Linked DNA regions of Homo sapiens: region 2 is linked to region 1. Evidence: fine-mapped expression QTL. Tissue or cell type: left ventricle. Region 1 holds a variant in brackets; the other region holds the start of a gene. All regions are shown on one strand. Distances are from middle to middle.

Evidence for each region. PIP is the estimated chance that this variant, and not a neighbour inherited with it, causes the effect.
Region 2: it holds the start of PDCD1, and the variant in region 1 is fine-mapped to the expression of PDCD1 in left ventricle (GTEx, PIP 0.94).

Annotation. Positions count from the first base shown.
Region 1 is chr2:241,821,972-241,827,166 of GRCh38, forward strand. No RefSeq gene overlaps it. Among named protein-coding and RNA genes, the nearest start is that of NEU4, 15 kb to the left of the region's middle. The variant T/C (reference allele first, on the strand shown) is at 2,809.
Region 2 is chr2:241,856,785-241,861,895 of GRCh38, forward strand. PDCD1 (programmed cell death 1) reads right to left here and starts at 2,110. Exons shown (of 5, transcript NM_005018.3): 1 at 1,979-2,110. The coding sequence starts at 2,054. It overlaps LOC124908032 (a long non-coding RNA gene), which reads left to right and starts at 2,288. Exons shown (of 2, transcript XR_007088436.1): 1 at 2,288-3,293. RefSeq lists an enhancer at 1,316-2,278.

The DNA of each region.
Region 1 (5,195 bases):
TGGCTTACTGGGCTGGCAAGGACCTCCAGGAAGATGTTAAACAGCCTTGATGTCTGATAGGCCAAACAAGGGCCCGGAAGCCGTCTGCATCCTCATTCCGGGGCCTGCACCATGACGTCATGGCGAAGGGCTGCGCCGAGGGGGCCGGCTGAGGGTCTTGAGGTGAGAAATCATCCTGGTCATCTGGGTGGGTCCAGGGTCTCACCAGGGTCCTTATGGGAGGGGACAAAGGGTGGGAGAGGAGGGAGGAGGCCTTGGAGCTGGGTTTGAAGATGGAGGAGGGGCCACAGCTGAGGAGCCGGTGGCCTCTGGAAGCTGGAAAAGACGGGAAGCGAAGCCCGGACAGCCTGCAGAGGAACCAGCCTTGCGGACCCCTTGATGTTAGCCCGGGGAGGCCATGTCAGACCCCCGGCCCCCAGAACTTCTGGGGATGCATTTGTGTCGTTTCAACCTCCAGGTCTGTGTGATTTGCTATGCAGCCTCGGGAAACAGCTGTGTGGCCACCAGGGTCCCACCCTGCTCCCGCCTTCTGGGCTCCAGGACGCAGGTGTGGGACCCCTCACCATCCGCATGGCCCTCTGCTGTGCACTCTCCTTCTCGTTCGTGTCTGTGCTGCATTCTGGTTGGTTTTCCTTGGCTTTTTTTTTTTTCTAGTTCACGAATTCTCTCTTTGCTGTGTTTAATCAGCTGGGAGTTACTCTCTTGCTCCCTCTCTCCCTCCCCCATCCTTTCTCTGTCCTTGTCTCTCTGTCTCTGTGTCTGTCTCTGTTTCTCTTTGTGTTTGTGTCTCTCTCTGTCTCTGTGTCTTGGGCTGTCTCTCTTTGTGTTTGTGTCTGTCTCTTTCCGTGACTCTGTCTCCCTCTGTGTCTCTGACTCTGTGTCTCTGTCTCTCTGTGTCTCTGACTCTGTGTCTGTCTGTGTCTCTGACTCTGTGTCTCTGTCTCTCTGTGTCTCTGACTCTGTGTCTCTGTCTCTCTGACTCCGTGTCTCTTCTCTGTGTCTCTGAGTCTGTCTCTGTGTCTCTGTCTCTCTTTCTCTGTCTCTGAGTCTGTCTCTGTCTCTTTGTGTCTCTGACGCTTTCTGTCCCTGTCTCTCTCTGTGTCTCTGTCTCTGTGTCTCTGTCTCTGACTCTGTATCTCTGTCTCTCTATGTCTCTGACTCCGTGTCTCTGTCTCTCTCTGTGTCTGAGTCTGTCTCTGTGTCTCTGTCTCTCTTTCTCTGTGTCTCTGTCTCTGTGTCTCTGTCTCTCTGTCTCTGACTCTGTGTCTCTGTCTCTCTGTGTGTCTGTCTCTGTGTGTCTGTCTCTGTGTCTCTGTCTCTGTGTCTCTGTCTCCCTGTGTCTCTGTCTCTCTCTCTGTGTCTCTGTCTCTCTCTTTCTCTGTGTCTCTGTCTCCCTGTGTCTCTGTCTCTCTCTTTCTCTGTGTCTCTGTCTCTGTGTCTCTCTCTGTCTCTGTATCTCTGTCTCTCTGTCTCTGACTCTGTGTCTCTGTCTCTCTGTGTCTCTCTCTGTGTCTCTGTGTCTCTCTCTGTGTCTCTGTCTCCCTGTGTCTCTGTCTCTCTCTTTCTCTGTGTCTCTGTCTCTGTGTCTCTCTCTGTCTCTGTATCTCTGTCTCTCTGTCTCTGACTCTGTGTCTCTGTCTCTCTGTGTCTCTCTCTGTGTCTCTGTGTCTCTCTCTGTGTCTCTGTCTCCCTGTGTCTCTGTCTCTCTCTTTCTCTGTGTCTCTGTCTCTGTGTCTCTCTGTCTCTGTATCTCTGTCTCTCTGTCTCTGACTCTGTGTCTCTGTCGTGTCTCTGTGTCTCTCTCTGTGTCTCTGTGTCTCTCTCTGTGTCTCTGTCTCCCTGTGTCTCTGTCTCTCTCTTTCTCTGTGTCTCTGTCTCCCTTTGTGTTCTTCTCCACGACGTTCTCTTTGTCTGACTTTCTGCTCCTGCCGCGTGCGCAGAGGGGCGAGGAGGAAGCATTTGCGCATGCGCAGAAGGCTCGCTCCACGCCACGTGCTTCAAGCGCGTCGTTCCGTTTAGTATGAAATAAAGGCCCGCGGGGTGGAGAACGTGTCTGTTTTCCAGATGTGGAGATCAAGGCCCGGCAAGTCCTCTGTTGTTGACGGTTCTCAGGTGGTAGAAACGATCTCGCAGCGCACCTGCGTGGCTTCCGAAACCGTTGTCTCAAGCGTGTTCCACTTGATGTGATTAAAAAAGTTCTCGTGGCCCCAAGCACCTGCTTTACCTGCTCAGACCAGAGTGTCGTTCCGTCCCATTCATTCCGCAGCTTTCCCCGAACGCACACAAGTGAAATGTAAATGTCAGTGTGTGTGTATCTATCTCCCGTTTCTCCCAAAGCGAGACCGTCAGCTGCTATCACTGCACAGCGATGCGGGGACCAGGCCCGGTCCCTTCAGCCCGGGGCTTCGGCCCCCGGCGTTGTCTGACCCTCGTGCTCAGCTGTTCCTGCTTCTTCAGGTTCCCAAGGCATCCCCAGCCAGCTTCCCTCCTGCAAACCCCCACCCTGGGAGCTTGACCAATGACATCGACATCTTTCAATACTTGAATCCTGACTACTTCTTCTTCTTCTTCTTTTTTTTTTTTTGAGATAGAGTCTCTGTCTTCCAGGCTGGAGTGCCGTGTTGTGATATCTGCTCACTGCAACCTCGGCCTCCCGGGCTCAAGCGATTCTCCTGCTGTAGCCTCCTGAGTAGCTGGGATTACAGGCATCTGCCACTACGCCTGGCTAATTTTTGTATTTTTAGTAGAGATGGGGTTTCACCATGTTGGCCAGGCTGGTCTCAAACTCCTGACCTCAGGTAATCCGCC[T/C]GCCTCAGCCTCCCAAAGTGCTGGGATTACAGGTGTGAGCCACTGTGCCCAGCCTCATTCTTCTTCTTTTTTTTTTTTTTTTGAGATGAAGTCTCACTCTGTCGCCCAGGCTGGAGTGCAGTGGCGTGATCTCTGCTCACTGCAATCTTCACCTCTTAGGTTCAAGTGATTCTCCTGCCTCAGCCTCCTGAGTAGCTGGGATTACAGGCACGCACCACTATGCCCAGCTAATTTTTTGTAGTTTTAGTAGAGACAGGGTTTCACCACGTTGGTCAGACTGGTCTCAAACTCCTGACCTTATGATCCACCCACCTCCGCCTCCCAAAGTGCTGGGATTACAGGCGTGAGCCACAGCGCCCGGCCCTCATTCTTCTTAATAATTGCATGAGAGCTGCTGGTGGGAGTGTGAAATGGTGCAACCACTGTGGAAAACAGTAGCCATATCACTTCTCAGAAACTTAGAGATGGAATTACTGTATGATCCAGCAGTTACCCCGCAGAATTGAAGGCAGGGTCTCAGAGATACATGTGCACCCAGGTTCACAGCAGCGTTACTCACGATAGCTAAAATGGGGAAGCAGCTGAAGTGTCCATCCATGGGTAAGTGAACAAAACGTGGTCCATCCATACAAGGGAATATGATTCTGTCCTAGGAAGGAAGGGGATTCGACAGTTATTATGACATGGATGGACCCCGAGGATGTTATACTGAGTGAAATAGGCCAGTCACAAAAGGTCAGATATCGTATGATTCCACTCATATGAGGTCTCTGGAGGAGTCAAATTCTTGAGATAGAAAGTAGAATGGTGGCTTCCAGGAGCTGGGGGAGGCGGAGTGGGAGCAAGTGTTTAATGAGGGCAGAGCTTTGGTTTTTCAAGATGGAAAGTTCTGGAGATGGATGGCGGTGATCGCCGCACAACACTGGGAATTAGTTTAACATCATTGAGCCGGCCACTTAAAAATGATTAAGATGGTGTATTTTATCACAAAAAAAAATCAGCAAAAAACTTGCATGATGGATTCTAGAGTGTAGATGTGCTGAAATGTATTCCACATTTCCTTATCAAGGGAAATAAAGATTATTTCTATTTTTTTCCTTACCACTACAAAAATAGCTTCAGTAAATATTCTTGAACATAGATTCTTACAAACTGGAATTTTGATTTCTGTAGGATAGATTCCCAAATGTGGGGTGACTGAGCAAAACAGCTCTATCATTTTTATTTTAATAGAGAATTCTTTCTCAGAGGAAATAGCCATCCCTGTCCCATCAGTCATGCATGGGAAGGCTTGTGTCCTTGCACACCTGCTGGTACTTCACATTATCTGCCTTTTTACTCTTTTTCCAGTGTGATGGGTACACCATGTTATTTGCCAGTCTTGGGTGTAGAGCAGGTGAGAGTGAGCTTCTTGGCCAAACAACAGCATCCAAACCTCCCATTCCATGCTTGCTAATTTCCCTTTTCCTTGCCAGAAAACATGATTCTATTAGGCTCCATGCAATAGAAACTCTCCACTACCATATTTGAGGTGGGTGTCCTTAATAGATGGCATTTGCAAAACAAAACAAAACAGAGGCCGAGTGCAGTGGCTCACGCCTGTAACCTCAGCACTTTGGGAGGCCGAGGCGGGTGGATCACTTGCAGTCAGGAGTTCGAGACCAGCCTGGGCAACATGGCAAAACCCCGACTCTACTAAAAATACAAAGATTAGCTGGGCATGGTGGCGGGTGCCTGTAATCCTAGCTACTTGGGAGGCTGAGGCAGGAGAATCACTTGAACTTGGGAGGTGGAGGTTGCAGTGAGCCAAGATTGCGCCACTGCACTCCAGCCTGGGTGACAGAGTGAAACTCCATCTCAAAACAACAACAAACAAACAAACAAACAAACAAACAAAACTGAGCCCTGGGTTGGGAGTGGGCTCTGGAAGGCATCAAGAACAAAATTGTAAATAATGCAGAATGAGGTGGGGCTGTTATTGTCATTTATCTTCAAAATCTGAGCTATTTATCAAGAATGGTTTGGATGATGGGGAAGGACGGAGGACTGTCTACACAGGCAGATCCCATGGGGAAGGGAATAGGAAACTGGCTGGGGGGTTTCTTCCAGGGTGCCCAAGATAAAGAGTGTCCTTCAATTGGCATTAATGAAACAGGGTGGATGTGAATCCTGGAGTCAGGAGTCCTGACTTCAGACTTCACTTCCAAGCAGCATTACCATGGAACTCCTCAGAGCCTTTTCCCTCATCTAGGTTGGTGGTCCAGAGGCAAATGCAGGACCACCTTTCTGCTTACCAGGCTGTGAGCTCTTTGAGTGTGGCAACCAAGTCTTTGTCATCTTTCTGTTTCTCCCCTACCCCAGCACCTCGCTGAGTGCCTGGAATGTGA
Region 2 (5,111 bases), 35 kb after region 1:
CCAGCCTGGGTGACAGAGCAAGACCCTGTCACTAAAAGAAACAAACAAAAAAGTGTCAGGGGCTGGGCTGGGTAGTTTTCACAGATGACCCGATTTAATCCTCAGGACGCAGCCTTGCCAGGAGGCGTCCTCACCCATGACCCAAAGCACACGGAGAAGTCAGTAAGGGGCCAAGTCCTGTCGAAGGCCCAGAGCTCAGCAGTGGCAGCGCTGACTGGAGCTCACAGTGGTCCCACGCCAAAGCAGAGGCTCTTATTTATGCTCCTGCCCTCGGACGGGGCCAATAAGCAGCCGGGTTGGGGATATCTCATAAAACACAAGGGAAGCACACACCTGAGGTGGGAGTGGTGGCCCCGGGAATGACCGAATGGCGAACGCAGTGAATAGATCAGGAGGGAAAAGAGGCATCCTGGAATGAAGACCACTGCGGCCGGGGTGGCCACATCTGGGTCAGGACCCACAGGACCCCAGTCATGCCCACTGCGCCTTGCTGAGTGCCCTGTGCTGTTACCAGTGGGGAAACCGAGGCATGCCACCTGTGAGAGTCTTGTCCGGCACAAGCGCGGGCACCTGAGGCACGAGTGTCAGGCTGCGGACACCTTGCTCTTATCTTTCCCGCCTGGGTCGGGGAGGGTGGCGTCCCGAGGGCGTGCCTGAAGAGCCGGGACACGGGGGGAGAGGCTCGGCTCCCCTCCTGCCTCGCTCAGCTCCCCCTCCCCTGTGACGAGCGCCCCTCTGCCCTCTGGTTCCCCCGCAGTCGTCTCCCTGGGATGCCTTTTGGCCCTTTGCTCTTTGCCTTTTGCCCAGAATCTCCAGTTCTGAGTCCTGAGTGACCCACGGGCCAACCTTAAGAGGTGGCGCTGAGGCAGGAAGGCACGGCCCTGACAAGGATGCTGCCTCAGGTGCCGGGGAGCAGGCCCCGGGAGAGGGGCCGAGGTGGGGAACCCCCAGTCGCCTGCCACAGTGAAGGGGCACCAGGACCCCCGGGGCAGGAGCCTCGAGGGGGTGTCAGGGCGGCCCCAGGGGTGCCCCTCATCTTGTCCTCCCAGTGGTGTCACACCCCGGTACCCAGCAGGGCCCAGAGGGACTGTCTTAGGCTTGGCCTGGGTGAAACCACCCTCCCCAGGCCTTGGCATCCCCAGGTGCAGGCTGGCTGGGCACAGAGGGCCAGCCGGGCACAGAGGGTCCAGGAGCGGGCTGTGGTCACAGTGTACACAGAGGGCCCAGGGTCACGGGCAGCCCAGGAAGAGGCTCCCTCTCTCCTCGATCCGGGAGAGTGAGGCCAAGGCCTCCCCCACGGATGGTCTGAACAGGGCTCGGGGAGAGCCCTGGAATCTGGGCAGAGACCCAGGCGGGCACAATCCCCACCCAGGAGGGATCCTGGAGACAGAAGAACTGTCCTCACTCGAACAGGTACACTTTGGATATAATGAGAAAAATATCACCAGCTCATCTAAACTTTGACGTCGTAAAGCCAAGGTTAGTCCCACATGGGGCTCATCCCATCCTTAGGAAAACTCGAGTGAGGACCAAGGATGCCTGGGCAAGGCAGAGCCGCCACGCAGACTCCCCACGGCCAAGGTTTGGGGTTCTGGCCAGCCTGACCCGTCATTCTACAGAAACACGCAGCCCCAAGGACCGGCTGAGAGGGGACAGAGGTCCTGCCTGCCCAGGAGCAAAGAGGGGACTTGGGCCAGGGGAGGAGTTGGGGCCCAGAGAGGAACCCAGGAGTTCGAGCTGCCCAAAGCCACACAGCTCAGGGTAAGGGGCAGAGCTGGGGGCCAAGGCTGGGCCTGCCACAGCACCCCCCGACCTGCCAGGGACTGAGAGTGAAAGGTCCCTCCAGACCCCTCGCTCCGGGACCCCTGGGCTGCCAGGGCCAGGCCCGCCTCAGCACCCCCCGACCTGCCAGGGACTGAGGGTGGAAGGTCCCTCCAGACCCCTGGCTCTGGGACACCTGACCGCCGACCCCACCTACCTAAGAACCATCCTGGCCGCCAGCCCAGTTGTAGCACCGCCCAGACGACTGGCCAGGGCGCCTGTGGGATCTGCATGCCTGGAGCAGCCCCACCAGAGTGCCGCCTTCTCCACTGCTCAGGCGGAGGTGAGCGGAAGGGAAACTGTCCCAGGTCAGGTTGAAGGGAGGGTGCCCGCCCCTTGCTCCCGCCCCCTCTTCCTCCACATCCACGTGGGCGAGAGTGACAGAGGCAGTGCTGGGGGAGGAGGGGTGAGGAGGGGGTAGGACTGGGGAGAGGGTGGGGGAGGGAGAGAGAGACAGAGACAGGGAGACAGAGGAGATGGGGAGGAGGTGGGCCCGTGGCCCCCACGCCCTACCCCGTGGGGGTCTCCCCAGCTCAGGGCCCCTTCCTCCTCTGTGTCTCTGCTCACTGCTGTGGCCTCTTTCCATATCCCGCCCGAGCTGCCCCTCCTGAGGCTGCCGGGTGGGGGCAGGCCCTTCTCCTCCCCCATCCCCCCCATCTCCCTGGGGGCCGGGCCTCCCTGCCTGGGGAAGGTGGGTGGCCCCCTCTGGGCTCAGGTTCCTGGGCTGCAGTGAGGGGTGGGCTCAACCCCACTCCCATTCTGTCGGAGCCTCTGGGAGCCTCCCGGCTGCCCACAGCCTCTGCCCCTGCTGGGGGCAGGTGCCTGGCCTCTGCCTTCCCGGCCCATCCCCCTTCGCTGGGGCACAGGTGACCCTACTGAATGACAACTGTCCATGGCTAATCGGCTCCCCCTCAAAGCTTCCACCTTGTGGATGGCCTCACACCATGGCCACAGTTCCAGATCTTTCCACCGTGTGATGCCTGCAACAGCCTGACGGGGGGGCTGGGGCGGTGGCAGGGGCTGGCTGTGAGGCTGACCTCCCCTTCCAGCCTTGACCTTCTTCCCCGGGGCCCTGCCCTCCAGCCCACTCGTGCCAGGGTGGGGTGGTTCAGGGGGTCCAGTGCCTGGGCCTGGCTGGCGGCCCGGCGTTTGTGAAATGGCTTGCTTATCTCCTTGTATTCTGTGCTGAGCATTTTATTACAGCGAATGGAAAACAGGAGAAATGAAACTGCTGATATTAGTGATGAGATGCGTCAGGCTCATCAGCTTAAAATAACCGAAGCGAGGCTAGAAACCGCCTGACAGCTGGCGCGGCTGCCTGGCTCCGAGAGACACTCGGCCCGGCTCTGAAGGGAAAACATTAAAGCACCGAAACAGTGGAAAAAGAGCATCAAAGATGATGTCTGCGAGGCGCGGCCACGGCGAGGAAGCTCTCGTTTATGAACAAAGGGCCACTCCCGGGTCTCAGAGATGTGAGGCTGTGTGGGTGGCTTGGTGGGGAGGTGGGGGGGGCCCAGCTGGCCAGGTGGGCTTGGCGGGGGGCCCCCAGGGAGCCTGGCAGCACCCACTGTGCTGCCAGACAGCTAAGGTGGCCCGCAGCAACTGTCTCCTGGCACACCCACCCTTGTGCCTCAGGGGCTGGGGCTCTGGGGCTGGAGAACTGTTGGTTGGTAGGTGCCTCCATAGCCCTGTGCCTCGCCCAGGCAGTGGATAAGTGGCTAAGCTGCCCCTGCTGGCTGTACTTGTCCTGAAGGCAGATTCTGGACAGAACCTCCCTCTGCCCCCAGCCCTGTAGAGCCTTGTTCCAACCTCTGTTGAATGCTGTCTCTGTTCCAGGGCAGCAGTGGGCCTTCCTCAAGGCTCTGAGCTTTGTGGGACGAAGCTGTCCTCTGAGGACTGGGAATGCCACTGTGTGGGCTGGAGGGGAGGCTGGGCCCAGGAGGTGGGCTCTGAGATGGGAGATGCTATCAGACCCCTGGAAGGTCTCCTCACCACCAAGGCCCTGCCCCCAAAATTCCACCTGCCAGGGCTTGGACACATGTCCTGGAGTAGGGGGCGGGCACAGGGAGAAACCCAGCTTCCATCCTACCCCTTCCTTCCTTCTCCTTCTCCCACCCCTCTCCTCTCTCCCTGCAGTTCTTCCCTGTCACCCACTCTCCTTCCCTCCTCCTCTCAGTCCCACTGAAGGCCCCTGGGCCATGGGAGAGGAGACCTGGTGGGGTGGGCCCAGCGTGGAGCCAGGGGACTGCGGCCACTGAGGCCAGGGCTGCCTGATGGTCTCTCCACATTGCTACTCGCTGGAGCACCTGCAAAGAGACACATGGACCCAGGGAGGGTCTGCAGGGCTGCGAGGGGTCTGAGCCTGGAGAGCACAGGGCCTGCAGGGATGCAGGCATTGGGCATTGGGCCTGGACTAGTAGGCTGAACCTACAGGGTCCTGGGACCCCACCCCGAAGCAGATAGGCGGTCCCAGGGCTCAGGTGTGGGGTGGGGACTCATGGAGCCTGCACCCCAATATCACACTCCAGACCACTTATTGACACCCTCCCCCAAACACATACGGTGTCCCCAACACACGATTTCCAACACACCACACCCCAACACACACAGTCCCCAACACACACACAGTCCCCAACACACACACAATCTCCAACACACACAATCCCCCCACACACAATCCTCAACACACACACAAAATTCCCAACACACACAATCCCCAAAACATACACAGTCCCCAACACACACACAAAATTCCCAACACATACAATCTCCAACACACACAATCCCCCTGCACACAATCCTCAACACACACACACAATTCCCAACACACACAATCCACAACACACACACAATCCCAACACACACACAACTTTCAACATACGTAGAATCCCCAACACACACAATCCTCAACACACACACAAAATTCCCAACACATACAATCCTCAGAACACACACAATCCTCAACACACACACAATTCCCAATACACACACAATCTCAAACACACACAATTCCCTCACACACAATTCTCAACACACACACAAAATTCCCAACATGCACAATCCCCAACGTACACGCAATCCACAACACATACACAAAATTCCCAACGCACACACAAAATTTCCAACACACAATCCTCTGTACACATTGTCCCCAACTCACACACAACTCCCAACATGCACAGAATCCCCAACACACACACAAATCCCCAACACACACAATCCTCAACACACACACAATTCCCAATACACACACAATCCCCAACACACCCAATCCCCAGCACACACACAGA